4 linked regions of the Homo sapiens genome follow. The protein of the gene in region 4 interacts with the protein of the main gene of each other region in a pairwise test. Each region holds a gene or a part of one and is shown on either strand. Other genes may lie near its edges. The genes, in order: CFAP161, SP2, BTBD2 and CINP.

Region 1 (7,026 bases), on a different chromosome or scaffold from region 4:
ACTATTACTAATTCGTATGACAGCAATGTAAGCATTGCAAGAATATATGGACCCAGGCAAGGTACAGTGGCTCATGCCTGTAATCCCAATACTTTGGGAAGTCAAGGCAGGCAGATCACCTGAGGTCTGGAGTTCGAGACCAGCCTGGCCAACATGTCGAAACCCCATCTCTACAAAAAATACAAAAAATTAGCTGGGCGTGGTGGCAGGCTCCTGTAATTCCAGCTACTTGTGTCACTGAAGCATGAGAATCACTTGAACCTGGGAGGTGGAGGTTGCAGTGAGCCAAGATTGCACCACTGAACTCCAGCCTGGGGGAAAAAAAAGAATATATAGACAGTTCTTCAAGTTCTAATTTAGATTTCCTTTGAATACATATGTTAAGACAAGTAAAAATTGATCACAACCTCTGTTATCCTGAAGGATTAAGAGGGAACCGTATTAAATGTCTACAAATGTGTTACCTTGGTTCTCTCTGAACATGTCAATGCACTTGACCAGAATTCCTTAGTATACATTAGCAAGATGTGCTTAGTTTACTCTAACCAGAGGCTCACAAAGTGGGGATGCTTTGTGTGCTAGCTATGGTGCAGGGCAGGGAGTAGGGTGCTAGCTGGATTTTAAGACCAAAAGAAAACACCTTTTATTTAATTACCTAATTCAGTTACAGTATGTGAATATAAATTATCAAAAAACTGATTATAAACAAAATTGCATGCATAAAAAATAGAGTCATAGAATGATTCTAATACAGAGAGTTTACATTTACATTATACTTATTGTCCACTGACAGTGTACACAGAGATGCCACTGGTCAAGTCCTTAGATATGGGCAGGACTTTTGCCTGGGGATAACAGGAGGATTTGACAACAAAATGGTGAGTTATCACTTTGCATATCTACTTTGGATCAGTCATTTCTGTTGCCCAAAATGGGATCATAACTATCTACTGAAGTGGACAGAGAACTCCAGAGTCATGGGCTCCACCTCTGACTTCACTATGGTGTCAGCTTGCAGCTTTTCACAGGCAGTTTTGGGCCAAGCCAGTCTTTCCTTTTAACTTCCCAAATTACAAAAACTACACCCTTAAAACCTAAACAGTAAGGGAGGAAAACCATTTCACAATGCAGCTGGCAAAAAGCAAAAGTTTATACCACTTCCACCTGTAAATTAAATGATTGAATTCATTAATAACCATCTGATACCTGTCAAATGTTGCCAATGCTAGCAAGGCATATTATCTGACAACTTTTTTATTTAAACTTTTGATGATCAGACTTTTGCTTAGTATGGGAGTAGGGACAATATGAGATGCTTAAATTTGCATAAATCAGGGAGCCTTGGGGATTAGGAAGTATAATAGAACCAGATAGATTTGGGTTTGAATTTCAGGTGCGTACCTATGGGATGGGAATTTGGGTAAGTTATTTAATGCTTTTTGAGCCTGTTTCTCATCCATAAGATGGTGAGTATTAATCTACCTTACTACATGCCAGGCAGTGTTGTAAATGCTTCACATATTTCAACTCTCCTAATCCCCCAAACTTGCCTTTGAGGTAGGGACTATTTTACCTTTAATTTACTGATGGAAAAACTGAGGCACCAAGAGGTTAAGTGATTTCTGACTCAAGTCACTCAGTTAGCAAGTAGCAGAGCTAGTACTATATCACATTTTTTATTGAATTAAAAATCCATTTACTATATGATGTAGCGTTATTATTATTATTATTTTTGATACCACTAAGAAAACACAATGCTGCCTGCTGGGTGCAGCGGCTCATGCCTGTAATCTCAGCACTTTGGGAGACCAAGGCAAGAGGATCACTTGAGGCCAGGAGTTGTAGACCAGCTTTGGCAACATAGCGAGACCTCATCTCAACTAAAAATTTTAAAAAAATTGGCCAGGTATGGTGACGCGCTCCTGTAGTCCCACATACTCATGAGGCTGAGGTGGGAGGATTGCTTAAGCCGGAAGGTAGAAACTGTAGAGTTTGCACCACTGTACTCCAGCCTGGGTGACAGAAAGAGACCCTGTGTCAAAAAATAAAAATAAAAATAAAAAATAAAAAGAAGAAGAAACGATGCTACCAATTAAACTTTGACACCCCACAGATGGTAAGTTGCAGCCTGATAAATATTGACTTACTGAAAAAAGGGAGTAAATTACCATTTCTTAACCAGAGATTAGCACCATTAACATTTTGGTTTATTTTTACTTTCCTGTGTATTTTTTTAAAACTTAGATAAATATACAGATAGGTTATTCTTTCTAAAATAGCATTTTTAAAGCTTTTTAAAATGACGAAATCATTTAATGAGAGCATAAGATATAATTGTGTGGCGGTATCATAATTTACCTAGTCTTTCTTCTACTTTTGGGCAGTTGGGTTTGGTCCAATATTTCTCTTTTATATGTAAAGTTCCAGTGTGCATTTGTGTATAAATGCTTAAATCTTCCCCTCTCAAACTTCAAATTAGGAATTCTACCTTTAGGATAGATTTTTGGGCAATGAATTACTAAGTCAAAGAATATGAACACATTTAAAAGTATTGATACATATAAAGAGTTCTTTTTGTAATGGGGTGTACCAATTTGCACTCTCAGCAACAGTAAGAATGATCATATACTGCTTCATTAATTGTATTAAATATCATAATTTAAAACTTTGCTAATTTGACAAGCAAACAAAATGAAAAGAAAAAATGATATGTAAATGTTGTACTACTTGTAATTTCTCCTATATTTTAAGTTTGTTCTCTTTCCCTTATCTCTTCCTTTCTCTCTCGCTTCTTTTTTCTTTCTCCCTCCCTCTCCTCTCTCCTGCAAATCATCCGTTTTTTGCCTTTGTGTTGATTTGGGTTTATATACCATTGATTACTAAATTTTGTCATATGTGTTGCTAATATTTCCATTTGCTGCTTGGCTTTTAAATTGTAGTTGTTCTAATATTATATTTTTGAGTAAAATGTAATTCCTTCCATTGCTTTTATGTTTTTAAGACTGCTTCAGAGATCTGATAAAAAGAAAAACTAGAATTAGCTTCTAGATGTTTGCAATTTGACTTTTGCTTACATTTATTATTTAATCAACTTGGGATTTATTTTGATAAAGGGTTTTATGTGAACATCTCATTTTGTCCCAGATGACTGGTCAGTTATATCTATTATCCCTTGAATGATTATTCCTTTCTCTACAGGTGCATGACATTTCCCTTAGCATATATTAAATTACTGTATATACTACCCTGTGCTTCTGAGCTTTCTATTTTGATCCATTAAACCCTAGTTGTCTATTTCTTTTTTTTTCCTTTTTTTTTTGAGACAGGGTCTCACTCTGTCACTTAGGCTGGAGTACAGTGTCACGAACATGGTTCACTGCAGCTTCCACCTCCCAGGCTCAAGCAATTTTCCTGCCTCAGCCTCCTGAGTAGCTGGGACCACAGGTGCACACCATTATACCTGGCTAAGTTTTTAAAATTTATTTATTATTTATTTATTTATTTATTTTTGTAGAGACGGAGTTTCGCCATGTTGGCCAGGCTGGTCTTGAACTCCTGAGTTCAAGTGATCCTCCTGCCTCCACCTCCCAAAGTGCTGGGATTACAGGCGTGAGCCACTGCACCCAGCCCAGTTCTCTATTTTTATTCTAGGACTATAGTGTCTTAATTATTAGAGCTTTATGATAGGGCTCATAGCCCTGTGACCTTGACAGCTCATAGGGCTAGTTGCCTCTCATTACACTTCTTTGTCTGAATTATGTTAGGAATTAATTTCTCAGTTAAATATAATGGTTATTTTTTTCAAGTCCTTCTGCCCCTGTGGGGAAAAGATTACTTGGTATTATATTTTGATTGGCATTGTAAAATTAAGTAAATTCACATATTTAGTAACTTTGCCATATTTATTCTTCTGAGATGTCTCTCCATTTATTCTGTCAGCAAAATTTTCTATCACCCAGTAAGATTTTGTGGTTTTCTTTACATGGACTTGACAATGATTTTGTTAAGGGTTTTTCCTTGGTATCTTGTATTTTCAGATGCTATTGTAGAGAGGTCCTTTTGATAGAATAAGGATAGAACATTTGATAGAATAAAGGATAATTTCTCTTATAAAAATATAAGAAGGCTATTGATTTTTATATTCACCTTTGATGAGATCACTTACTCTTATTAATTCTATAGTTTTTTCAGTTGATTTTTTTATGTTTTCTGGGAAGACAGTCATTTAATCTTCAAATGATGACAATTTTCTCTCTTCCTCAATTCTTATACCTCGAATTTTGGTTTCTTGTCTTTGAATTAGCAAACCCTTCTGGGGCATTCATAGAAGCGTTGGTGAAATAGTGGCCTACTGGGTTAGTTCCTGATTTTATTATGGTTTTACTTTAGGTGAACAAGGCAGTTTGTGGTTTGAGACAGATAGTATTTGCCTTTTTTTTTTTTTTAAGTTGGTGTCTCACTCTGTTGCCTAGGCTGGAGGGCAGTGGTGTGATCTCGGCTCACTGCAGCCTCTGCCTCCCGGGTTCAAGCGATTCTCATGCCTCAGCTTCCTGCGTAGCTGGGATTACAGGCACCTGCCACCACACCTGGCTAAGTTTTGTATTTTTAGTAGAGACAGGGTTTCACCATGTTGGCCAGACTCTCTCGAACTCCTGACCTCAAGTGATCCTCCTGCCTGAGTCTCCCAAAGTGCTGGGATTACAGGCATGAGCCACTGTACCTGGCCTTATTTGCCTTTTTAAATTCTGGTTTTCTTGTTGCTCTGAAAGGCACCATCATCCAGGGCCAATGGCGAATCTATCTTGGGCCCATCTCCCTTCCCCACCCACGTCCAGCTGATTACCAGGTCTCTTCCGCTGTTCCTAGGCTCTTTTCTCCCTTCATACTGCACTTTGGCCTGTTTCTCTTGCCCCAGTGCAGCCCCTCAGCAACCCAGGCCCCATTGCTTTGCCCTTTTAGTCTATCCTGACTTCAGACCATACTAGACAGGGTGCTGCCAGGTTGATCTTTTTTTTTTAATTTTCATTTTAATTTTTAAAATTTATTATTATTATTATTTGTTTTTCAGGTTGATCTTTTACAAGCACAGGTCTGGTCACCCCCATCCTCACTGGAGTCAGCAGTGGCTCCCCATTGCCCTTTGAATGAAGTTCTGCCTGTTTGCTGTGGCATTTGAGGCCTTCTGTAATACATCCTCACCCTCTCTGTGTTCACCCCCTCTGGCTATCCAGCCTCCTCCTCAGAGCCTCTTTTGATCCCCCAGGAAAGCACCGTGCTCCTACCTCTGCCTCCCACAGCTCATTGCAAATCTGCTGGACCTCCCTAACCAGAAAGCTGCATGCAGGTGCTTCCCATTTTTGTGCTCAATCACCTCTTCTGCTAGGTGGAGAACCTCATGAGGATAGTAACTCATCTCTGCCTTCCCCATAGTGCCTCACAGCACAGCCTTGCATGGGAAAGGTGCTTATTGGAAACCTGTCAAAATATGCAGAAACTACCTCCACATTCAGGGCGGGGCTGAACCAGTGAAGAACTAGCAAAGGACTAACATTTTGGACTTTTCAGCAGGATGGGGGTTGTTTCCTGGCAAGGTTACAGGCAGCCAGATAGCCGACATAAATTTCCAGCATGGACATCAATTCCAGAGGGGTGTGGGTCACCTTGAAGGCTCACAAATGAATATCAGCTGTGAGGATATTGATTTGAAGAATAATTCATTTCACGTGATGAGTTTAATGCAACATCATTTATATTAAATAAAATATTAGTCCATGGCTGGGCATGGTCGTTCACACCTATAAACCCAGCACTTTGGGAGGCTGAGGTGGGAGGATTGCTTGAGACCAGGAGTTCAAGACCAGCTTGGGAAACAGTGGGATCCTAGCTCTACAACAAATAAAAAAAAATCAGCTGGGCATGGCAGTGTGCACCTGCAGTCCCAGCTACTCGGGAGGCTGAGGTGGGAGGATCACTTGAGCCCAGGAGTTGGAGGCTGCAGTGAACCATGATTGCCACTGCGCTCCAGCCTGGGCAACAGAATGAGACCCTGTCTCAAAACAAAACAAAACAAAACAAAACAAACCCATTGGTCCAGTTCCTATATCCTGAAGGGGAACAGGGGACAGGGAGTAGGAAGGAGAGAGGAAGATTGAGTTTGGTATTCAGAGGAAGGAAAAGTAGTTGGAGATGTGAGTGTGTGTAGGTGTGTGTGTGTGTCTTGGTCTCAGCATGCCAGATGGCATATCTAAGGTAGAGGAAAATTGTGCTTTCTCATACAATCAGTAAGAACAGAGTTTTTGAGAACTGCTTTGAATGTGCTTGCCGTCCAGCCAGTCAATTGCTTCTTTATTCTCCAGCTTTTCACAGAGCTCTGACTTAGTGCATCTGCTTGCTGTCATTTTCAGTTGTATTTGTCAAGTGACCACAGGACCCTCCTGAAATCGTCTAAGAGGTCTTGGCTCCAGGAAGTGTACCTAACAGATGAGGTCTCCCATGTGAACTGCTGGCAGGCTGCCTTCCCTGACCCCCAGTTACGCCTGGAATATGAAGGCTTCCCCGTCCCGGTGAGTGCAGCATCGGGAAGACATGGGTGTCTAGGCTATGAAATGGATGCAATTTATTCCTGTCTATAACACACAGACTTATAGCTCAAATGCCTTATGACTTTCTCTCTCTTTTCTGTCTTTTTTTTTCCATTTATAACACACAGACTTATAGCTCAAATGCCTTATGACTTTCTCTTTCTTTTCTGTCTCTTTTTTTCCATTTATAACACACAGACTTATAGCTCAAATGCCTTATGACTTTCTGTCTCTTTTCCGTTTGTAACACAAGTTTGGGAGGTACTAATCTACCCCATGGCAGCATCCTGCACTAGAGTTTCTCACCTCTGGCTGCACGTTAGAATCGCCTCAGGAACTTTCTAAAAAGCTCAGGCCCTGCCCCTGTCATCAGGATAAGAACCACTGATGTGCGATCATGAGCGTTGTGACACTGCTTCCTTCGCACTGTTTTCGCTAAGGCCTC
Region 2 (7,026 bases), on a different chromosome or scaffold from region 4:
CAGCTATTCGGGAGGCTGAGGCAGGAGAATCGCTTGAACCCGGGAGGCGGAGGTTGCAGAGAGCCGACCTGAAAAGAGCTGCCAATGGCCAAAGAGAAAAAAAGAGCCGACCTGAAAGAGCTGCCAATGGCCAAAGTTGACCTTTAGCCTTCAAAAGTGTCAAGGTCATGATGGTCAAGTAAAGAATGAGGAAGTCATCCTGGCCAACACGGTGAAACCCTGTCTCTACTAAAAATACAAAAAAAATTAGCCGGGCGTGGTGGCACGCGCCTGTAATCCCAGCAACTTGGGAGGCTGAAACAGGAGAATCGCTTGAACCCAGGAGTTGGAGGTTGCAGTGAGCCAAGATTGCCACTGCACTCCAGCCTGGTGACAGAACGAGACCCTGTCTCAAAAAAACAGAAAAAAAAAAAAAAAAAAAAAAGGAATGACAAAGTGTTTCAGATCAAAAGAGACTAAGGAGACAACTAAACGTAATGTGTAATATTGGATCAGATCCTTTTGCCACAAAGGAATTAGTGGGGCAAGTGGTGAAAACACAGTGGGGTCTTGGAATTAGCAGTGTGTTTCACTGCTAATTTCCTGGGTTTGACGATTGTATTGTGGTAATGTAGAATGTTCTTGTGTGTAGGAATTAAAGCGTTCAGAAATGACAAGGGGGATCATGGTGGCAATTTACACTCAAATGAGTCAAAAGGAAAAAAGTTCTTTGTAAAAAAAAAATCCTGTTGTGATTTTGATTTGGGTAATTTTTAATTCCTGGATTATTTATGACTGTGCTTCTTCTCACTTAAAAGCTAACAAACATCTCATCTCTTTAAAAAAAATTTTTTTTTTTTAAATAGAGACAGGGTCTCTGTCACCCAGGCTAAAATGCAGTAGAATGATCATAGTTCACTGCAATCTCGAACTCATGGGTTCAAGTGATCCTCCCACCTCAGCCTCCTGAATAGCTGGGACTACAGGTGTGTAGCACCATGCCTCACTAATTTTTAATTTTTTTGTAGAGATGGGGTCTTGCTATCTTGCCCAGGCTGGTCTTGAATTCCTGGGCTCAAGCAATCTCTAGCCTCAGCCTCCCAAAGTGCTGGGATTACAGGCATAAACTACCTCACCTGGCCCATTTCTTAGTAAATATGCAAATCTCATTCCCAGTTTTCTGATATGTGCCCCTTTTTCAAATCACTGATATTTTATGTCTGATTTTGTGTGTGTGTGTGTATGCGTGCATGCATGTGTGTGTGTGTATTTGCATCTGAAGGTTCAGCAAGCTTTTTTTATAAAGGGCCGGAGAGTAAATATTTTAGCTTTGCGGGGCATATTGTCTCTGCTACTTAACTGTGCTACTACTGTAGTGCAAGGGCAACACAAATGGACGTGTCTGCACTCCAATTAAACTTTATTTACAAAAACAGGCAGGTGGGCTAGATTTGGCTTCAAAGTTGGTCACAGACTGCAAACCTCTAATATAGAATACAAATTTTTTAAAAATGTACGTGTCCTTGACCCACTTTCAGGGATTTATTTAGCTGTAAGATTGGAAACAGCCTAGATATATACAGTTAACAAGGTATCAGTTGTATAATAATCAGCATGTTGGGATGTTATAAAGCTGTGTAGTCATGAAAAAATAATACTGTAGCTAAATCTTTCTGCATATGTATCATTATTTCCTTAGGGAAGACCTGGGTTTTAGTCCTGTCTCCATCAACCTCAAGAAATGGGACCTCATGGAAGGGAGGGGAGGCAATGCCGAGGATGTGCTCCTGAGCAGGTGCCACAATTCTTCACCTGTAAGGTAGGTCTGATCATGGGAATTCACAGATATTTGTGATAGATGACTTATAAAAAATCACCTGGCAACATAAAATATCACCTGTAGGGTAGGTCTGATCATGGGAATTCACAGATATTGTGATAAATGACTTATAAAAAATACCTGGCAACATTAAATATGCCAGAAGGGTGAATTCCTGTGTGATTTCTATGTCCACAGTTCAAATTCAAAGGCTCTCTTCTCCACCCAGGAAATTACACAACTTCCCACTCTCAGTCATTCGGTTCTTCCTCTATAGACAACTAGGTCATACATTCCTCGATGGCAGGAACTGTTTTTTATATTAAAAAAAAAAAAACTCCTCAATTTTAATGGTAGCACCTGCTACACATAAGACACAAGAGTCAAGGTGGAAGATGGAAGAGTGTGGGGTCTGAAGTTACAAATCTCAATTGACTCCTGGTTCCTGTCATTTATGCCCTATTTGATCTTGGATACTTCATAAATTATCTGAGTTCTGGGTTATCCATCTGCAACATGGGCACAATTACTGGCACTTAGCAGGCATGAACAAAGAATAAAACTTGCCTCACAGAGCCAAAGAGATTCCAGAGTATTAGAGCACATTAATAAATGCCAAAAATAAGAACATTCTTGTTGAATTCAGCATCCCAGTTTGGCAGGAAGCAGTGGCTCAGCCTGGCATGGTGACATACACCTGTAGTCCTGGCTACTCAGGCTGAGGTGGGAGGATTGCTTGAGCCCAGGAGATTAAGACTGTAGTGACCGCATCACTGCACTCCAGCCCGGACAACAGAGTATGACCCTATCTCAAAAAAAAAAAAAACACCCTAAAACAAACAAACATTCCAGATGAATCTAGCCTAAATATTCCTGCTATAAAGCTAGGCTGCTCTTCCTGTTTTTTTCTTGTCATTAATAATGATCAGCATTTTTCTCATTAATTTTCTTACTTTACATAAAATTCTATGAACTGGAATGTTTTCATTCTTGCTAATGTTTTGAGTAATTCTATAATCAAAAATAAGTTATTAACAAGTATGTATCTATCCCCTCACCATCCCCTGAAAAAAAACAACCTATAAGGAAAAGGTGCCAAAATATCCCTATGTTTCATCAATTTCTAAAGATAAGAAGTACTTGGCCCTATGAACTAAAGAGAGCCCATTTGTCAGGTAGAAACGGCCACTTACTGCCCACCCCAAAAGATACTGACTCTCAAGGTCAGATCAAGCTGGGAGATGACCAGCATCATCTTCAAAGCAAGCCAAAAAGAGATAACCAGAGGAGGAGAAGGAGGACAGTACAGGGAGTGTGGTACCTGAGTAGGTGTCGGCTCAGCTGCCTGGATCTGAAAGTTCTGGGAGGGCTTCTGGGGTACAGTGGGGAGGGTGGCAGATGCCGCCTGCACCACCCGCAGAGCCTGCTGGGGGATCTGTACCACCTGCTGCTGCTCGGCCTTGGGGGGCACCACCTGGACCTGCTGGACCACAGCTGGCTGGCCCCCACCAGGGCTCTGAACAATGAGCAGGTTATTTCCTGCCTGGATGATGTTGTCCGCGGTGGTCTCGATCAGCACCGTCTCCACCTGCTCAGCCACAGCCACAGGGGGCTGGGAGGCAGGAAGGCTCTTCTTCCTTGCTTTCTTGTTAGTCTTAGACAGCGGGGTTGGGGGGCTTTCAGTGAGGAGCTGAGTAGGGGCCCCGGTGTCACTGGCGTTCACAAGGTTGTTGACGGGCAGAGTGAGCGTCACATTGCCGCCCCCACCTGTCAGCTTCACCACATTGGCCCCGCTCTGCACGGGGGTGGTGGTCGTACTCGACTTCTGGATGGGGGCTGGCTTGATGGGGACAGGCTTGTGACTGGACGGTGAGGGGGTGATGATGGCTTGGTTGGTGCCAGGGATGATCTGGATCTGGTTGGTGAGATTGGGCTGTACTTGGATGGTTTGGGAATTGCTTGCCTGAATCTGAGGGACCGCCTGGTACTGGATATTGGCATTTGATCGGGTCCCTTTGTTGATCATGGTGGGATTCTGGATAGCGAACACCAGCTGCCCTCCAGGATAGGAGGCGCTCAGTTGTGACCCCTGAATCTGAAGTATATTTCCTTTGGAGGACAAGATTCCAAAGCTATTCTTGCCGGGGCTGAGAGGGAGAGGGGCAGGTTTGATAGGGACAAGTTTCCGCGGTGTGGGCTGTGGGGGAGCAGGAGGTGTCACAGCAGCTTCAACTGCTGGAGGGCCAATTTTGCTACATGTTGCAGCAAGCAGGGCTAAGGGAGATGGCTGGGAGTCCTGCAAAAAAACAGCAGAGAAAAGGAGTGAGACAGGAAGGCCCGCTGCCCGGCCGCCTCTGTCCATGATCCTCTCCTCCTGGCGGCATTCCACGCCAGTCTTCCCCACCTCCGGGGCAGGCATGTTGCCAGTACCCTCCCCTGCTTGGCTGCTGTCTCCCCTTCTCTACTGGTTTCTCCATTAAGTGAGGGAGAAAAGGTGGGCAATGTCTTTCTCAGGAAGGAACCCCTGGCAGCACCCCACAGACAGGGTAAACTAACAGCACGAGCTGACTTCCTACTCTCCGCTGGCCTTGTTTCTAAGGACAGTGAAGCATGTTTGGCTCTCAGATGGAGTTTGTTAGCCCACCCCAGGGACTGAGGGGTCCCTGATTGCTCAACTGAGGAAAGGAGGGAGGAAAAAATGGAGGGGCAACAGGAGGAATAAATACTTCAGTAAAGTGCTTTTTAGTACTCGGAACATGTAACTTTATAGACTGGGGAGGGCTACACTTTCGAGACAATGAGAAAGCCTCTGTTTTCCTTTTCCTTTTTTAGTGAGGTCTGGTGGAAGGAACACAGAGTTTAATCCTTGTTTTTCCCCCTGGCCCAACTGCGGCACCTTAGGTAAATGGCCATAGTTTCTCAGTAAAGAAAATGTGGCTAACTGAACCTTCCCCAGTCTCATAACCTAGGGTATTTATAGTGAGACAGTGAAGAGAGAGTGTTTTCGGTGAGTCTGTCCAGGATGCTGCAGCCCCAAGCCCTCGGAGCCCACTGCCTACTCGCCTGGGTGGTGGAGGCGGCAGGCTGCAGGTAGTCACTGGGACTCACAGCAGCAGTGGCAGCCATGCTGGTCTGTGGATCTGTTGGAAGAAAAGAGATGGAGTAATGTATAAAATGCCCAAAAAGAACGCAAGCCCACTTGCCTCAGATTTTCTTTTTTTCTATTTTTTTTTTTTTGAGACGGAATTTTTGCTCTTGTTGCCCAGGCTGGAGTGTAGTGGCATGATCTAGGCTCACGGCAACCTCCCCCTTCCAAGTTCAAGCAATTCTCCTGCCTCAGCCTTCTGAGTAGCTGGGATTACAGGCGCTGCCACCATGCCCAGCTAATTTTTGTATTTTTAGTAGAGACAGAGGTTTCACAATGTTGTCCAGACTGATCTCGAATTCCTGTCTTCAGGTGATCCACCCGCCTTGGCTTCCCAAAGTGCTGGGATTACAGACATAAGCCATTGCACCCAGCCAGATTTTCTTTTTGCCTCTATTTGTTGCTGCTTCTCCAAGGGAAGTTAATGACTTTTCCCCAGACTTACCCACCCTGGGTTGATAGCCTTACATCTATTTCAGTAGATTACTTTCTCCTCTCCTCTCCTCAGACTCAGCCATCTGAGGCTGTGAGGACAGCTGGTCCTGCTGTCGTTGGACTGCCCCCTCCAGCCACCACAGAGTCTGAGATAACACAAAAATAACCAAGATTATACCAGGACTCTCTTCTGTAACTCAGCTATGCCCTCTCTGCTGGGCACTGCTGGCTCTCCATAGCTAAACTGGAACTCCTCTATGGTGGGCAGGGGGGAGCTCCCCAGCTAATCCTCTAGCTCAAACTCAAGCCTCCTGTTCACTCCTGCTGTAGACAGATGCCAAAACTGGGAGGGAAGTATCGCTCAGCCAAGATTTCTGACAAGGAGGACACACCTGCTCCACTGCCAAGTCTTGGGTGTTTTATGCTCAGCCTTCACCACAAAGGCCGTTGTCCCCAGGCAGCATATACAGCACATGGGTCAATTCTTTTTTTTTTTTTTTGAGAAGGAGTTTCACTCTTGTTGCCCAGGCTGGAGTGCAATGGCACGATCCTGGCTCATTGCAACCTCCACCTCCCAGGTTCAAGTGATTCTCCTGTCTCAGCCTCCTGAGTAGCTAGGATTACAGGCATGTACCACCATGCCCAGCTAATTTTTGTATTTTTAGTAGAGACAGGGTTTCACCATGTTGGTCAGGCTGTTCTCAAACTCCTGACCTCAGGTGATCCACCTGCCTCAGTCTCCCAAAGTGTTGGGATTACAGGCGTGAGCCACCATCCCTGGCCTCATGGGTCAATTCTTTACTTGAATTTACGCTTTTACATAGTACAATAGGCACGGCCCCACAGGCATCAACCAAGACTCAGTAGAGCTAATGACTAACTGGATATAACAAGGAGAATGAAAACAGAGTAAATTCTATTTTTGTTTAAATGTGTATATATTTCTATATATGAATATAATCAAATAGGAAAAAGTCTTAAGCCATTATCTCCTAGCGGTTGAGTTTTGTTTGACTTAAACTTATTTTGCACCTTGGTTTTCTGTACTTTTTCATTTTCCCATGATAAATATATTCTACTGTACTTTTTTTCTTAAATAAAGAAAAATAAGGTTGAGGAAGTAATGAAGGGACTCTCTACTGTGCACTTAAGTCATCCAAAAGAGGCTAGGTACAGTAGCTCATGCATGTAATCCTAACACTTTGGGAAGCCGAGGTGGGAAGATCGCTTGAACCCAGGAGTTCAAGACCAGCCTAAGCAACACAGTTAGACCCCGTCCCTAATAAAAATTTTTTAAAAAGAAAGAAACACAGTATCAGGAAAACGAAAGTCATGAGAATTTTAGGAGAAAGAATCTATACCATCTTAAAGTGCATAAATCACTAAGGAAAAGAACACCAGGCAGAGTCAGACTTCAATCCTGGACCTCTGGAAAGCAGATTTCAGTAAGTACAGAAATAAGAGGGGTATTACTTTAAAGACTAAAAGAGACAAAAAGGCTCAGGATGCATTCTGCTTGGAAGGCTGAGATGGAAGGATCACTTGAGGCCAGGAATTTGAGGCTGCAGTGCCCTATTATCACACCTGTGAATAGCCAAAACACTCCTGCCTGGGCAACATAGCAAGACCCCATCTCTTAAAAAAAAAA
Region 3 (6,793 bases), on a different chromosome or scaffold from region 4:
TGGTCCTGAACTCCTGACCTCAGGTGATCCACCCGCCCGGCCTCCCAAGGTGCTGTAATGACGTGTGAGCCACCACGCGGCCTTGCTGCCGGGTTTCTTGATGTCTTGCCCTGCACGTGTGCTCCTGAGGCAGCAGCCAACGGCTTGACTTCTCTGGCCACTGAGGCCACAACTGGGCACTCCCTGCTTTCTCTCCATCTCTCACATCCACGGTCCCCCAGCAGCCAGCAGGGCCTCCCCACGGGGAAATCGGCACACACGTCCATTGCATTTGGGTTTGGGGGGAGGTGTTGAGTTAGTTAGGGTCTTGCTCTTGCCCAGGGGGGAGGGCAGTGGTGCATCACTGCTCACTGCAGTCTCGACCTCCCGGGCTTCAGTGTGGCCTGTGGGTACTTAAGGAGGGTCTCGCAGCACTGGCGACCAGACCCGGGGTTCAGGGCCCCTCTCGGCGCACGACATCCCTCGCCCACTGCAGCCCGGATGACAGGGCAGAGAGTGAAGGGGAGCAAAGCAGTGTGCGCTCAAGGCAGGTGCATTTGTTTCTTTATTTAAAAAAATCATCTGGGGGCATGGTCTGAGGAGGACACCCCTCCCATGGCTTTGGGGAGGACGCAGGTTCCAGGAGTCACAGGGCAGAAACACGCGGGGTGGGTGGGGGCGTGGCCGGAGTGGGGAGGGGCTGTGCCCCCAGCACCTGGGGGTGGCTCCCACGGCACCAGGTGGGCTAGGGCAACAGTATGTACAGGCGAGCAGTGCTCCTGGACCCGGTCGGGGCCGGCTGGGGCCCCATTCTGCGGCAGGGGAGCTCTGGGGCACAGGGTCTGAGTCCCATCTTGGGCTGCAGGGACCGCGAGGGCCGTCCAGGGAGGCTGGACAGCGGGGGCCTTTATCTGGGCCCATCAGGTGGATGAGAACGGACACTGCAAACCGCTCACCACCTGGGCCAGGGCTAGGCCTATCCGGCAGGGGCCGTCCCCACACTGAATCCTGCGTGCGCAGAACTCAAGCCGGCATCCAGGCAGTGGGAACGCCCCGCAGGCTGGGCTTGGGTGGCCTCGGGCACGTGACAGGTGGGGCCCGTGTCCTGATAAACGGACAGGAACAAAAGGAACGCAAGGTCTGGGACCCACGGCTCTGGGAGCAGCGCCACCCAGGCTGGCTCCTAGCAGAGAAATGGGAATCGCAAATGCATTGCAATGTGCAGTGAAGAGACGCGAGGGACGCCCGCGGCGCACCGCCGGCAGACGACGTGGGCAGGCGCCCTGAGCTGCGGGTCCGTGGGCCCTGGCCCAGGCCGGCACAGCCCTGTCCCTAGTCCTGAGGGATTGTCTCCACAGGGCCTGGCCACTGGCCTGGCCACCTCCCCGGCTGCCCTGATCCAGCAGCCACACTCGTGGTGAACACAGGGCAACCCCGTCCTGATGCTGAGAAAGGTGGCATGGAGTGGACAGACGGCCTGGGGGACACTGGGCCTGGCACCGCGTGGTGGGGGGGCCCCAGCAGCAGATGATGGCCTGGGGCTGCGGCTATCCCCACGGAGGGAGGGCGGTGTCGGTGTCGGGCAGCCTAGGTGTAGAAGATGACCTCGGGGATCTGGCCGTCCTCCACGGATGTGCCATTGTTGTTCCCGGCCGCGTAGCAAAAGGTGAAGCAGGTCTTGGCGCCCGTGGTGGGCGACTCGTGTGTCACCTTGCGCAGGCCTTTGGTGCCGTAGTGGGAGTCTGGGCCCTGTAGGGAATAGGGGTACAGTGAGGTCAAGGACCACCAGGCTGGGATGCCCCAGGTGTGGACAGGGCAAGGCCCCGACTGGGCCAGGGTGGCTGCCTCTGGAGAGTGTGTGCTGTGCCCCGGTGGCTTCAGGATGGGCCAGAGACTCCCACGGAGGGACCCCTGTCCCCGGCGGCGCACCTTGAGCGTGGCACAGGCCGTGTAGTTGACGTTGGGCAGCACCTCCACCGGCTCCTTGAACATGACGCGGAAGGTGCTGGCTGAGCCGTCGCAGCTGAAGCCCGTGTCGTTCTGGCCCAAGACGGTGTTGCTATCGGTGTGAATAATCTGCGGGGAGGTGGGAAGTGGGAGGCTCAGGCCTGGGGAGGGCCAACGGGGACCCCTCGAGGCCCAGCCCACCTGCCCAGGGTGGGGGCAGCACAGGGACCAGGGCCGGGGGTTCAGCCAGGGTTCCATGGAGGTGGAGAGAGGACATGGGCCTGAGTGGGGCCTGGGGATGAGGCTTGGGGCTGGTACCTGGATGTTCACTTGGTAGTCGGTGGGCCCGTGGATGGATCCATACAGCCCAAATCCCACCACGAAGATGCGCTTGTTGACTGAGAACCTGCCGTGGCAGATGACAGGCAGCAGCGTGGATACCCAGGGATAGCCTAAGGTGAGCTGGGGCGAGCCCACCCCCATGCCCGGTCCCCTCCATCGTCCCTGAGTCCTCCACCCCCATGCCCGGCGGCCCCCCCGCCGTCTTCATCATCCCTGAGTTCTCCACCCCCATGCCCGGCCCCCCATCTCCGTCATCCCCGAGTCCTCCACCCCCATGTCCGGACCCCCCCGCCTGCACCCCAAGCCCCACCTGATGCGGTCACTGGTCCCGCTGTAGCCCCAGCGACTCTCCACCTGCTGGAAGCGGTTGATGCTGCACTCCTTCCCACGCAGGCAGCAGCGGGGCCGGTCAATGAACTCCACTCGTGGCTTGGGGTTGACGGTGAAGTGCAGGAAGAGGCTGACCACCTCGCGGTCCACCAGGATGCCCGACTGTGCGGGACCTGCAGCACAGGGAGGGTGTGGGGGAGGGCCGGGCTGCACCCCAGGATCCCGAGTGCCTGGGAGGACACGCTCCTTCCCCCTAAGATGTCTGCGTCGGACTTTCAAGGTGCAGGGACCTGGGCAGCCCCTCCCCGGGGGACTAGCCACCAGCCATGGCCCCTGCTGCCTGGGCTTTTAGGGAGAGGTCCCAGGGCACAGACCAGAGGCCGACAGATACGCTCACTCAGGGGCGATGCCTCAGGGTCTGACAGATGCACTCACTCAGGGGTGATGTCTCAGGGTCTGGCCCCACTGTAGGGACCACCCGTCACTTCACTGTGGGTGGGGGCGGGGGGCTCCACTGCCTGTTCTCTCAGGGCCATTGGCTGGGAGGGGTCACTGTGGCTCCCTGCTAGGCCTGTACCCCCCAGGCTGCAGCCCTGGCTTCTAGAAGCAGTCTGGGGGTTCCTCTCCACGGTGGGCCCTAGGCAGACACCTTCTCAAGCGCTTACACCCCCAGGGGTGATGGCTAGCGGACCCCAGGCAGACTCCAAGAGCCAGGCTCTTAATCCCGGTGCAGAGATGTCACAGGCAGAGGGACTGTGCATGGGATGTGAAGGGGCTCTGGGTAGGGAGGGGAGGCCAGGAGGGGCAGAATTGGGGGTCCACCATCCACCCCCAGGAGTGCCAGGACACAGCACCCTCTGCTCTAATGAGAGCAGCCCTGCCTGCCTGAGACCTAATCACTCATCAACCAAGGTGGGCTCAACTCCGCATCGCTCAGCTGCAAGCCAGCCCAGTGCAGACACAGTTTAATAACTGGTGAGAAACAGACCATTATGGGTTAAGTGAATCAGGAAGACTGAGTATCAAAACTCAATAAACAATGTTAACAATTTTTTTTTTTTTTGAGACGGAGTTTCGCTCTTGTCCCCCAGGCTAGAGTGCAGGACGGAGTTTCGCTCTTGTCCCCCAGGCTAGAGTGCAGTGGCGTAATCTCGGCTCACCGCAACATCCGTCTCCAGGGTTCAAGCAATTCTCCTGCCTCAGCCTCCAGCATAGCTGGGTTTACAGGCATGCGCCACCATGCCCAGCTAATCTTGTATTTTTAGTAGAGACGGGGTTTCACCCTGTTGGTCAGGCTGGTCTCAAACTCCTGACCTCAAGTGATTCCCCCCATCTTGGGCCTCCCAAAGTGCTGGGATTACAGGAGTGAGTGACCCAGCCTGGCCAACAATTGTATATATTTTTTTATTTTAAATGGAGTTTCACTCTTGTTGCCCAGGCTGGAGTGCAGTGGCGCGATCTCGGCTCATCACAACCTCCACCTCCTGGGTTCAAGTGATTCTCCTGCCTCAGCCTCCCGGGTAGCTGGGATTACAGGCATGAGCCACCACACCCAGCTGATCAACAGTTGTATTTTTAAGAAGTATGTATCTAGCCAGGCTCGGTGGCCCATGTCCATAATCCCAGCACTTTGTGAGGCCGAGATGGGAGGATGGCTGGAGCCCAGTTCATGACCAGCCCAGGTGACATAGCAAGACCCTGTCCCCACAAAAAAATACAAATATAAGCCTTGTGTGGTGGTGGCACCTGTGATCCCAGCTACTCCGGAGTCTGAAGCAGGAGGATCACTTGAGCCCAGGAGGTCGAGGCTGCAGTGAGCTGTGATTGTACCACCGCACTCAGCCTGGGCGACAGAGACCCTCTTGCTAAATCTGGCGACCTTCAGCTAAGCAAGAGCGGGGGCCGCGTGGACCTGGGGAAGGCCAGACGGCGAGTGTGCACCAGCCCCAGGGCTCTGTCCCAGCCCCTTCTGGAAAGTTCCAGGCCTGTTTTGCTCCAGAGCTGGATGGCGTCAGGCAGTGAGCAGCCACGAGGGCAGGAGGCATCGTTAGCGCTGCCCCTTCACGTCACCCTGGAACCCAGGCCCTGCAGCAGGGGACCCCAAGGCCCACTCGGGCGCATGACAGCCACCCCGGCCATGTCAGAGCCCTCCTGAGCTCGTCACAGACACTGGTACCTGCACCAGCAGGTAGCACAAGGGCGCGAGACGGGGACTCCCTTCCCTCCTGGGAAGATGCCACCAAAACAGCTGGACAGACACGAGAGGCGGGGTCTGGCAGTGTGCACGGTGGGGACAGAGCCGGGCCGGGGCTAACAGATGGCCCTGTGGACGCGTCCTCACAAGCCAGGTTTCTTCCTATCTGTATATGCCAGGCATCTGCCAGGCTTTCCGCAGTGAACTCGGGGGCACTATCCTCGGTACCCAGATGCCCACCTGTGTGCCACTCCCCTCCCAAACCAGCCCCTGAGCCCGAGCTCTGTTACCTGCAGCGAACTCCTCGATGGTCATGAGCGGGAAGCGAATGAGGCCCAGGGCCTTGCCCAGAACCTTCCGCCTGTTCTCTGGCGTCACCTGCAGCTGCTGCCGCTGACACTCGGCCTCGGACCAGCGGACAACGGCATTGAACAGCCGCACCTCACGGATGCCCAGTGTGTCGCGCTCCAGGACAGCCACCAGCGTGTCTGTGGGGTGGAGGAAGGGGCTGCGTGAACACGACACCCACATGCCCACCCTGCAGGAGGCAGTGAGACTAACGTGAGGACCAGCAGTTAAAGCCGGGCTGGCAACTATGGCCCGTGGCCCAAATCTGGCCCTGTGAGTGTGTTTATAAATAAAGCTTTATCAACACAAGACCACGCCCCTTCATTTTCCTCGGCTGTGGTTGTTTTTAAGCCACAAGGACAGACTTGAGTAGCTTTGACAAAAGCTGTTCAACAGCAAAGTCAAAGCCATGGACCATCGGAGGACGAGATGGTCACCATCAGCTGGGATGGTGGGCTCTGGCCTGTGGCCTCCTGGCCAAGGCCCCGGACTCCCGTGGGGCTGTGCTAGGACCCAAACTCCTGACCTGCTGCAAGTGGTGAGGCCCCAGCTCACCTGTGCAACTCCCCCAGGCCCAAAGCTCCCACTGTCAATCCCCGGACCCTCCCGCCGAGGCCCCGCTGGGATTCCCACACCTGGGCTCCTGGGCCCTTACCCAGGTCAATGTCGGTGAAGCCCTCCGCGGTGATGGCGTCTGCAGTGTTTTTGTCGATGTTCTCCAGGCACAGGCTGGCCAGCTGCGGTTCATCGAAGAGTCGCGCCTGGCAAGAGACATCGACGGGGGGCGCGGTGGGGACATCAGCACCCAGCCCTCGGCAGATCCCCAGTGCGGGGCCGGTTCAAATGCAGCCCTGACCACACGGGCCTTCCTGAGCGTGGCCAGGAGCCACCAGGGTCTCAGCCACCAGGCCGGCCCTGTTGTGGGCCCAGAGACTCCCCTGTGACCGCTGACTGGGGCGGGAGAGTTGGGGAGTTCCCTCTCAGGACCTCAGAGGCCAAGGAAGGAAGAAAAAGATGCTCAGGTCCCTGTCGGCAGGGCCTGCTGCTTTAGGCAAAAGGGGCGTTGCAGCTGCACTCGGGGGGCAGCAGGGCCCAGGACCCCGAGTGGCAGGCAGAGGTGAGGTGGCCGGGGCCGACCGGTGAAGCTTCCCGACCACAACATGCCCTTGGCCACTTGTGGTGGGAGGGGCCGTGTCCCCGGCAGCTCCATCCCAAGACAAACAGCAGACATGACTTCTGACAGTCAGGTGACAGAGCTGGAGGACGCCTGTGCTCTTAGGGAAACAGAGGCTTAGTTAGTGGAAGGTGCTGGAAGGGCCTATGCCAGCAGGGACCCGGGCAGGCCTTTCTGCGGGCATCCTCCCGAGGACACCTCTCAAGTGGGTTCGTAGTGGTTTTAGGGGCAGGGAGGCTGAGGCAGCCACAAGATGAAGCCCGGGGAGTGAGCTCCAGCCTCCTCTCAGCTCAGGCAGAGGCCTCTCCAGCAAGGCGACCAGATGACCCGGACAAGAAACCCCTCCCTGTGGGAGTCCGGGATGCCCTGCATCTGACCTGCCAGGATGGAGGGGGAGAAGGTTCTGGGTCCTTTCCAGGATGCCGGACCCCCAAAGCCCATTGGAGGACCCAGTGCCGCTGTCCCCTCTGGCCACCCTC
Region 4 (7,303 bases):
TAAAGTTGTGACTGTCTGCTAAAACTCTTCAATGGCTCACGTTCCCTTCCCTACAGGATAATCTAGCCCTGACTCCCGAGTACTTCCACTATCTAGTCTCAGGCACTCTGATACTTTAAATTTGCTCAGAGTAGCGTGGCCCATGAGTGCTAATCATTTCAAGACACTGAGACAACAGAGATGCAGAGTTGATCACGATGCTGCCACTGCCCTTCTTGGTAATCAGGAGGAAGTCCAAAATCCTTCCAGACCTAGCTACCCCTCCACATCATCACGTACATCAACCCACACCTTGGCCCCCCGTCAATATCCAGCGAAAATGAACTACTGGCAGCTCTTGAAAAGCTGAGGTGCCTGCAGGCCTTTACACGTGTTCTCTCTGCAGGAAAGCTCCTTCCTTCCTCAGGCTCACGATGCCCATCCTCCAAGATGCACCCGGATCCCACTGCCTGTAGGAAGCAACCCCCAGACCACCAAGAGCCAACTCAGGTTGTTTGTTCTCCCCGAACCCTCCTGTGCCCTCTTGCCTTCTCTACTTTGAACCCCACAAAGGCTTCTCACTGCCCACAGGATAAAGTCCTCTTGAGGAATCCAGGACACACAACAGCTGGATGGTTTGATGCCTCAAGTCAGAAGACCACACTGCCTGCGTCTGAACCCCAGCTCGCCAGCTGTGAGATCTTGGGCAACTTAATGTACCTTTCAGAGCCTCAACATTTTCATCTGTAAAATGGGAATAAAAATAGTATCTATTTCATAGGATTGCTGAGATTAGATAATATATGTGAAGCTGTGAGGCCTCGCACAAGGCAAAAACCCAGTATCTCACCTGTTAGCTCAAGGGCCTCTACTATCCAAGCTCTGCCCACCACTTCAGCTTCTACCCTTTCCCACTTGCCCTCTGTGCATCAGAGCTGGCTCTGTACAAGTTCTGACTTTGACCTGGAATATTTTTCCTATCTGTGTGTGTCCCCACTCCCCTGCCTCATACTTAGTATCCTCACTTTAAAATATCATCTTGATTTATCATTCATTCTTTACTTAAACAACAAATATTTGCTTACTGCCTACAATACGCCAGGCATGGGGGAATGAAGTGATTGAATGAGACGGACCAGGACCGTTTTCATGGAACTTACTTTCCAAAGGGGAGGCAGATAATAAACAAATGACCACGATCAGTTCAGATCATGATTAAGTGTGTGTGGAAAATAAAACAGGGTCTTGTGTTAGTGTGATCCCCTGAGAAGGTGTCGTTTAGGCTGAGATTTGAATGATGAAAAGCCAGAAATAGGGTAGGTCAGTAGTATGTGCCCTAATTATGATAATGAGGTTGGTGAGTTCAAAAAACAGAAAACAAAACAAAACAAACAAGCAAACAAAAAAACCAGTGTGCTGGAATGAAATAGACAGAAAAGGACTAGTGCGTGAGTAGGTGATCAGACAACTAGAACCTAATAGGCCAAGATAAGAAGTTGGACCGAGGGCAGTGGCTCACGCCTGTAATCCCAGCACTTCAGGAGGCCAAGGCGGGCGGATCACGAGGTCAGGAGATCGAGACCATCCTGGCTAACACAGTGAAACCTCATCTCTACTAAAAAAATACAAAAAATCAGCCGGGCGTGGTGGCGGGCGCCTGTAGTCCCAGCTACTCAGGAGGCTGAGGCAGGAGAATGGCGTGAACCCGGGAGGCGGAACTTGCAGTGAGCCCAGATCGCGCCACTGCACTCCAGCCTGGGTGACAGAGCGAGACTCCGTCTCAAAAACAAAACAAAACAAAACAAAACAAAACAAAATAAAAAAATGAAGTTTGGACTTCTAAGTATTAGCTTGGTGCAAAAGTAACAGATTTTGCCATTACTTTTAACAGCCAAAATTGCCATTACTTTTGCACCAACCTAATACAATGGGGAGTGAGCAATGAGCTCTGGATAGGGCAGTGAAATTATCTGATTTAGGTTTTTAGAAAGTCATTTCCACAGAGAAGTATTCCTGGATCCCCCAGGTTGGGTTACGACTCACCACTAGATATGTGGTACACCCTATAATTCTGCTATCATGATATTCACCAGTGGAGTGTATTTGCTTGTTTAATGTCTATATTCCCTGCTAAACTGGAAATTCGACTAGGGTAGGAACTATGTCTCGTTCTCTTTCAAACCTTCCACACATAGGAGGCTTTGCATAAAATGAGGTAAATGGAGGAATAGCTCTTACCACCTGTTCTATAATTGTCTAAGGGTTTTCCCCCCAACAGGAGATTCTGAGGGCAGGATCACATCTGATTCATGGTCAGCCTGACTCATACGGGGCACATATTTAGGAACCAAAAACATAACTGACTTCAAGAAACTCAAGGGCTGGTAAAGACAGACCAGTCATCAGCGTCACAGGACAGGGTAGGGTGAGGGCACAGTGGCTAAGTTACTTATCCCCTCTGAGCCTCGATTCCCCATCTGCAAAATGGGGTTGACATTACTTCATGGGACCACTGTGAGGTTCAAATGAGATGATCCACTTAAAGTGCTTGGAGCAGTACTCAGCAAACTGAGCACTAGGCGAAAGCCAGCTTTCATTACAAGCAGAATGTTCTGACTGAGGGCAGTTCAGAGAGGAGTTTCTGGACGAGATGAGCATGCAAGGCTTGGTACCCAGTGAACTCTGTTAGTACTAATTTATAGTGACAATAATTACAATTTGGATGTCGGATCTGCTGACACTCATTTGCGTATATCGTCCCGTTCATCTGTCACTGCACATGTGAAAAAACGGAGGCTCGGCAAAACTGTCTCCCGAGCAGCTCGCAGAGGCTGCGAGGGGCCTGCGGGCTAGGCTGGGGTAAGACAGAGGACCTCCATTTAACCTCATGTAATCCGGGGAGCTCCTGAGCTTCTGGTCCAACCTGCGGCCTAAGCAGTAACATTCACAGCCACCCCACCCCGGGAAAGGAACCGATCTCACGCACCTTCCATAAGGTCCACAGATATCCGTAGAAGGAGACGCGAAGCCCCGCCCACCCCACCGGAAACGCATTTGCGTCACGTCCGCCCCGCCCGCTGCCACTTGTGGCTCTGCCGCTCTAGCCCCCGGCGGAGCCAGCTGCTGCTCTTCGGTGCTGGCCCCGGTGCCGGCCCCGTTGCCCAGGGAACAGGCTCCCGGCAGCCCCCGCGGCCCGGAGTCCATCCCGCCTCCTCCGGCCCGGCGGGGCCGACGAGTCCGGAGGGGCTGCCGCGGGAGGTGAGTCCGGCGACGCCGCAAGCGGCCCCGACGCCCCCGACGCCCCCGACGCCTGGCCCCGAGCCCCTCCTCGGCCTCCCCCGGGCCACTCTTCCCTTGCCTCAGCCCCGCAGGGTCTCCATGCCCGTCCGCCCCGTCTCCCTCGCCCGCGGTCTCGCCCGCGCGGAGTGGCGGACACTAAATGCCACAACACACGGAGCGCCTGGCTCGCCGCCCGCAGAATCCGGCGGTCCGCAGCGGGGAACAGGGGCCGCCCGCCCCTCCTCAGGCCTCCGCTGCGCGTCCCGCGCCCTCGGCCCCCGGCCCCACCCTGCATCCCGGCTGCCGGTCTGGCCGCGGGCTCTGCTCCTTCGCCTTAAGATTGACGTCGTGTTCTGTCCCCCACTCGCAGCCCGCGTCCCTTACATCCGCCCACCGGCGCCTGGCCCCAGGCCTTGACACTCATCCAGTTGGTGTTCAGTGTTCGATGAGTGGATAAGTGAATGACTCCTTTCCCAATCCTATTTGAAGGCATGGGAGGCAGAATAGGTAGTAAGTGTTAAAGGATGGGGTGTCCTGGAGTCAGAGCCGGGCAGGTCCCAGCGGCCCCTTCCTAGCTCTGTGCTGGGGCAAGTGCCCTACCTCACTCCGCTCCAGTTTCATCACCAGTGGAATGGAGATGAGAATAGTTTCTACCTCTGGCTTGGTAAGAGGATTAAATGGGTCAGTGCATGTAAAGTTAAGCACGGTGCCTGCCGCTGTACATTTCAGTAAAGGGGAGCCCCTGCTGTCATCTGTGCTAGCCTGCGTTCTCGCCCTCTAGTCCCTTCTGATATGTCTCTGACTTCTCATGACTTTAGTTTCTCCTTCTCTACCTCCATTTCTCTTCCCTGCACTTTTTTCTTCCTCTCTTATTGGGATTCAGGAATTTTATTCTGTTCTGTGACTTATGTTCCATGTGTTGGCAGAATGTGGGATACCAGCCTGGGTGCATCCTTTTCTCATCTATTGGAGTGACCAGTTGCACTTGTGGACTGCCTCCTTGCAGCCAAGGTCTTGTAGACAGAGTTCTGGGAAATCTCAAAACGCAAATCCCAGGCATAGGTAGAATCTGGGAATGAAGCCACTGTAGCTCCTTGTGATCACCAGCGATTCCTGGTCTTTTAGGCTGCAGGACTTTGTGTTTTCTCACACCCAGCTATAATGTACCTTGATAAACCTCTGACCTTATTTTTGTTGTTGTTGTTGTTAACCTGACTTACGTCCCATATTGGTGGTTATTTGGCCATCGTGTGCCAGCACTGTGCCAGGCTGGCTCTAGGGATGCTGTGGTGAACCAGACAGACCCTTCCTGAGGTCACTGCCTCAGAAAGATCATGGTCTGGCCCATGAACTTTAAAAGGGAGAACTAAGTGCAGGTGTAGGGGACACACAAATTGAATTTTCAGGACTGCCTTGGAAAACCAGTGGTGGGGAAGATGGAATGAGGATAACCCTCTTCTGAAGGAGTGACTAGGAAGTAGCTTTTGTTAGGCATCAGCTATATTATACCCACGTGTCTTTTTCAATAGAAGACTGGCATCTACTGGATTTTTTTTTCCAATTTTTTCTTAAAGAAGTTACACTTAAGTTTGGGGAGAATTTCATTTCATATTAGCCGCTGTAGGAGTTGAAAAAAATGGCTACTGGAACTTAGTGGGAAGAAAAGGAAGGAAACAGGCATCAGGCAGAGGCAGTTGATTGAACTTGGGAAGATGAGGAATAGATCAGGAAAGGGTTATAATGAAAAGCTTTGGTGTCAAGCACGAAGAGATTTCTAGATTCAGTAATGCACAGAGAGATCAGTAAAATTAGAAGGGAGTAGTTGATGGCTTTGCGAATTGCTAAGGTAGAAGGGAGCTGTTACTCAAGATGCATGTTCAATTTAAAATGAATGTATTCTTTGGACCTGGACATAAGAGTTCTATTGACTTTTTGCCACTATTTTATATTTAGGGCTGTCATACTTGGGTGAATCTAGCACAGTGCTTTGAGAGAGAGATTCATTCAACAAACGTGTATTGAGCATTGATTGTACCATACTCTTTATTGGTCTTTTAAAGCACCACAAAGTATACAGACTAGAAGAACATAGGTGAAGATGAGAAAGAGTCCATTGAAGGGGAGAGAAAACAGATAATGATGGTGCTGTGCGATAACTGCCATCATGGAGTTCTGTGAAAGCAGAGAAAGACCAACCAAGTATCTGAGGGAATTTATGAAGGCTTCCTGGTGGCGGAGGACTAGTTCTTACAGGGCACATGTGGGGGAATAGGGAAGAGTGGAAAGGGACTTTGTTCTGCAGAGACATACAGGTTATGGTGTGTGCAGGGACTGTGATGGAAAGCTGATGGATGCACAAACAAAACGTGGCCTGTCTACACAATGGAAGGCTGTTCAGCAATAAAAAGGAACGAAGTACTGATTTGTGCTACAACATGGAGGAACCTTGAGAACATTAGGCTAAGTGAAAGCAACCAGACACAAAATACCACATATTATATGATTCAATTTTGATGAAATCTCCAGAATAGGCGAACTGTAGACAGAGAGGAGATCAGTGGTTGCCCAGGGCTGAGAGAAGAAGCGTGTAGAGGGGTGATTGCTAAAGGGTAGGGAGTGCACAGTGTGTGGATGGAAGAGTGGCCTGAGATGAAGTTAGATATAGACTGTTTTGTCATAGTGTCTAATTTCCATGCTTGTGTTAGGCTTTAGCTTGTGACCATTGGGTAGCCAATGGGGATGGGAGCAAGGAAGTGACAAAATTTTGTCTGGAAGATAAATGACTGCCTCAGTCTCATTACGTTCCTCCTTAATAATTTAATACTCAAATAATTAATAGATGTCGTAGCCAGATTTCAAACATAGATTCTACAATAGGGATACAAATTGTTGCTTCCTAGGGATTTTGGAGAGAATCCTGAAACCATTAGTGTACCCAGAGCACTCTGATAACATGGTTATTGTACAGCGAAGTGGATGACTTAGACTCTATATTAGTCCTAGCTCCAGTTTGAGAAATCATCCATCTGGGTGGCAGTTGGGTGTTAGTAGTCAGCAGTGAAGGCTAGCTGCCACCTTCCAGGGTTATGAGATTGACAGGGCTAGTGGGGAAAGGAAGCATCGTAACTTGAAGGATGCCATAGGGTGGTGTTTTGTATTTTTTTAACTGAAATAGTCATGACTAAGGAAGCATTATTCATTATATTTTTATTTATTTATTTATTTTTGAGATGAAATATCACTCTGTCACCCAGGCTGGAGTGCAGTGGCACGATCTTGGTTCACTGCAGCCTCCACCTCCCAGGTTCAAGTGATTCTCCTGCCTCAGCCTCCCAAGTAGCTGGGATTACAGGTGTGCGCCACCACACCTGGCTAATTTTTGTATTTTTTAGTAGAGATGGGTTTCGCCATGTTGGCCAGACTGGTCTCGAACTCCTGGCCTCAAGCAATCCTCCCACCTCGGCCTCCCAAAGTGCTGGGATTACAGGCGTGAGCCATCATGCCCAGCCCAATTTTAAAAATTGGATTGAGACTATTGTTTTGCAGTAAGACCTGAAGTTAACAAATCTTTACTGAGCATCTACTCTGTGCCAAAGCTATTATTAGATACTAGGATTTACCTTGGTAAGCAAGAGAGAATTCATGTTGCTTACATTCTTGTAGGAGAGATGATTTTTAAATGGTTTAGCAAATAAAGCAATTAGAGGTTGTAATGAGGATTATGAAGCACATATGATAGAGGAAAGAAGGGACAGTTGGGTACTCTTGAGTGATCTGGTCAGAGAAGGCCTTTCTGTGGTGGTGATATTTAAGCTGAGACCCCACAGTTGAGAAGAAGCCAGATAAATGGAGTGAGATCATTTATTCTGCATAGAGGAAATAATTATGACACCTGAGTGGGACAGAGTGGGTCAGTGGAGCTAGAACTTGGAGGACAAGTGGAGACGGGTAGAGAGGTGACAGGGGAGCTGCAAAGGGCTTAGACCACACGGGGCATTTGGTTTTTATTCTTAGAGCACTGGGCAACCAGTGAGGAGTTTTGAGT

The links.
Region 1: the proteins of CINP (region 4) and CFAP161 interact in binary tests that used the Homo sapiens proteins (3 or more experiments, as listed by UniProt).
Region 2: the proteins of CINP (region 4) and SP2 interact in binary tests that used the Homo sapiens proteins (3 or more experiments, as listed by UniProt).
Region 3: the proteins of CINP (region 4) and BTBD2 interact in binary tests that used the Homo sapiens proteins (3 or more experiments, as listed by UniProt).

The regions. Positions count from the first base shown.
Region 1 is NC_000015.10:81,137,258-81,144,283, forward strand, and holds part of CFAP161 (cilia- and flagella-associated protein 161), read left to right. Parts: intron 1-793; coding exon 794-878; intron 879-6,404; coding exon 6,405-6,563; intron 6,564-7,026. UniProt on the Homo sapiens protein: Microtubule inner protein (MIP) part of the dynein-decorated doublet microtubules (DMTs) in cilia axoneme, which is required for motile cilia beating.
Region 2 is NC_000017.11:47,913,224-47,920,249, reverse strand, and holds part of SP2 (transcription factor Sp2), read right to left. Parts: intron 5,525-7,026; exon of another isoform or gene 5,389-5,524; intron 4,939-5,388; coding exon 4,862-4,938; intron 4,095-4,861; coding exon 3,120-4,094; intron 1,799-3,119; exon of another isoform or gene 1,679-1,798; intron 1-1,678. UniProt on the Homo sapiens protein: Binds to GC box promoters elements and selectively activates mRNA synthesis from genes that contain functional recognition sites.
Region 3 is NC_000019.10:1,984,922-1,991,714, forward strand, and holds the end of BTBD2 (BTB/POZ domain-containing protein 2), read right to left. Parts: intron 5,902-6,793; coding exon 5,796-5,901; intron 5,450-5,795; exon of another isoform or gene 5,281-5,449; coding exon 5,083-5,280; exon of another isoform or gene 4,037-5,082; intron 3,574-4,036; exon of another isoform or gene 2,772-3,573; coding exon 2,579-2,771; intron 2,333-2,578; coding exon 2,245-2,332; intron 2,056-2,244; coding exon 1,909-2,055; intron 1,729-1,908; coding exon 1,567-1,728; 3' UTR 527-1,566; downstream 1-526.
Region 4 is NC_000014.9:102,359,880-102,367,182, forward strand, and holds the start of CINP (cyclin-dependent kinase 2-interacting protein), read right to left. Parts: upstream 3,012-7,303; 5' UTR 2,973-3,011; coding exon 2,966-2,972; intron 1-2,965. UniProt on the Homo sapiens protein: Component of the DNA replication complex, which interacts with two kinases, CDK2 and CDC7, thereby providing a functional and physical link between CDK2 and CDC7 during firing of the origins of replication.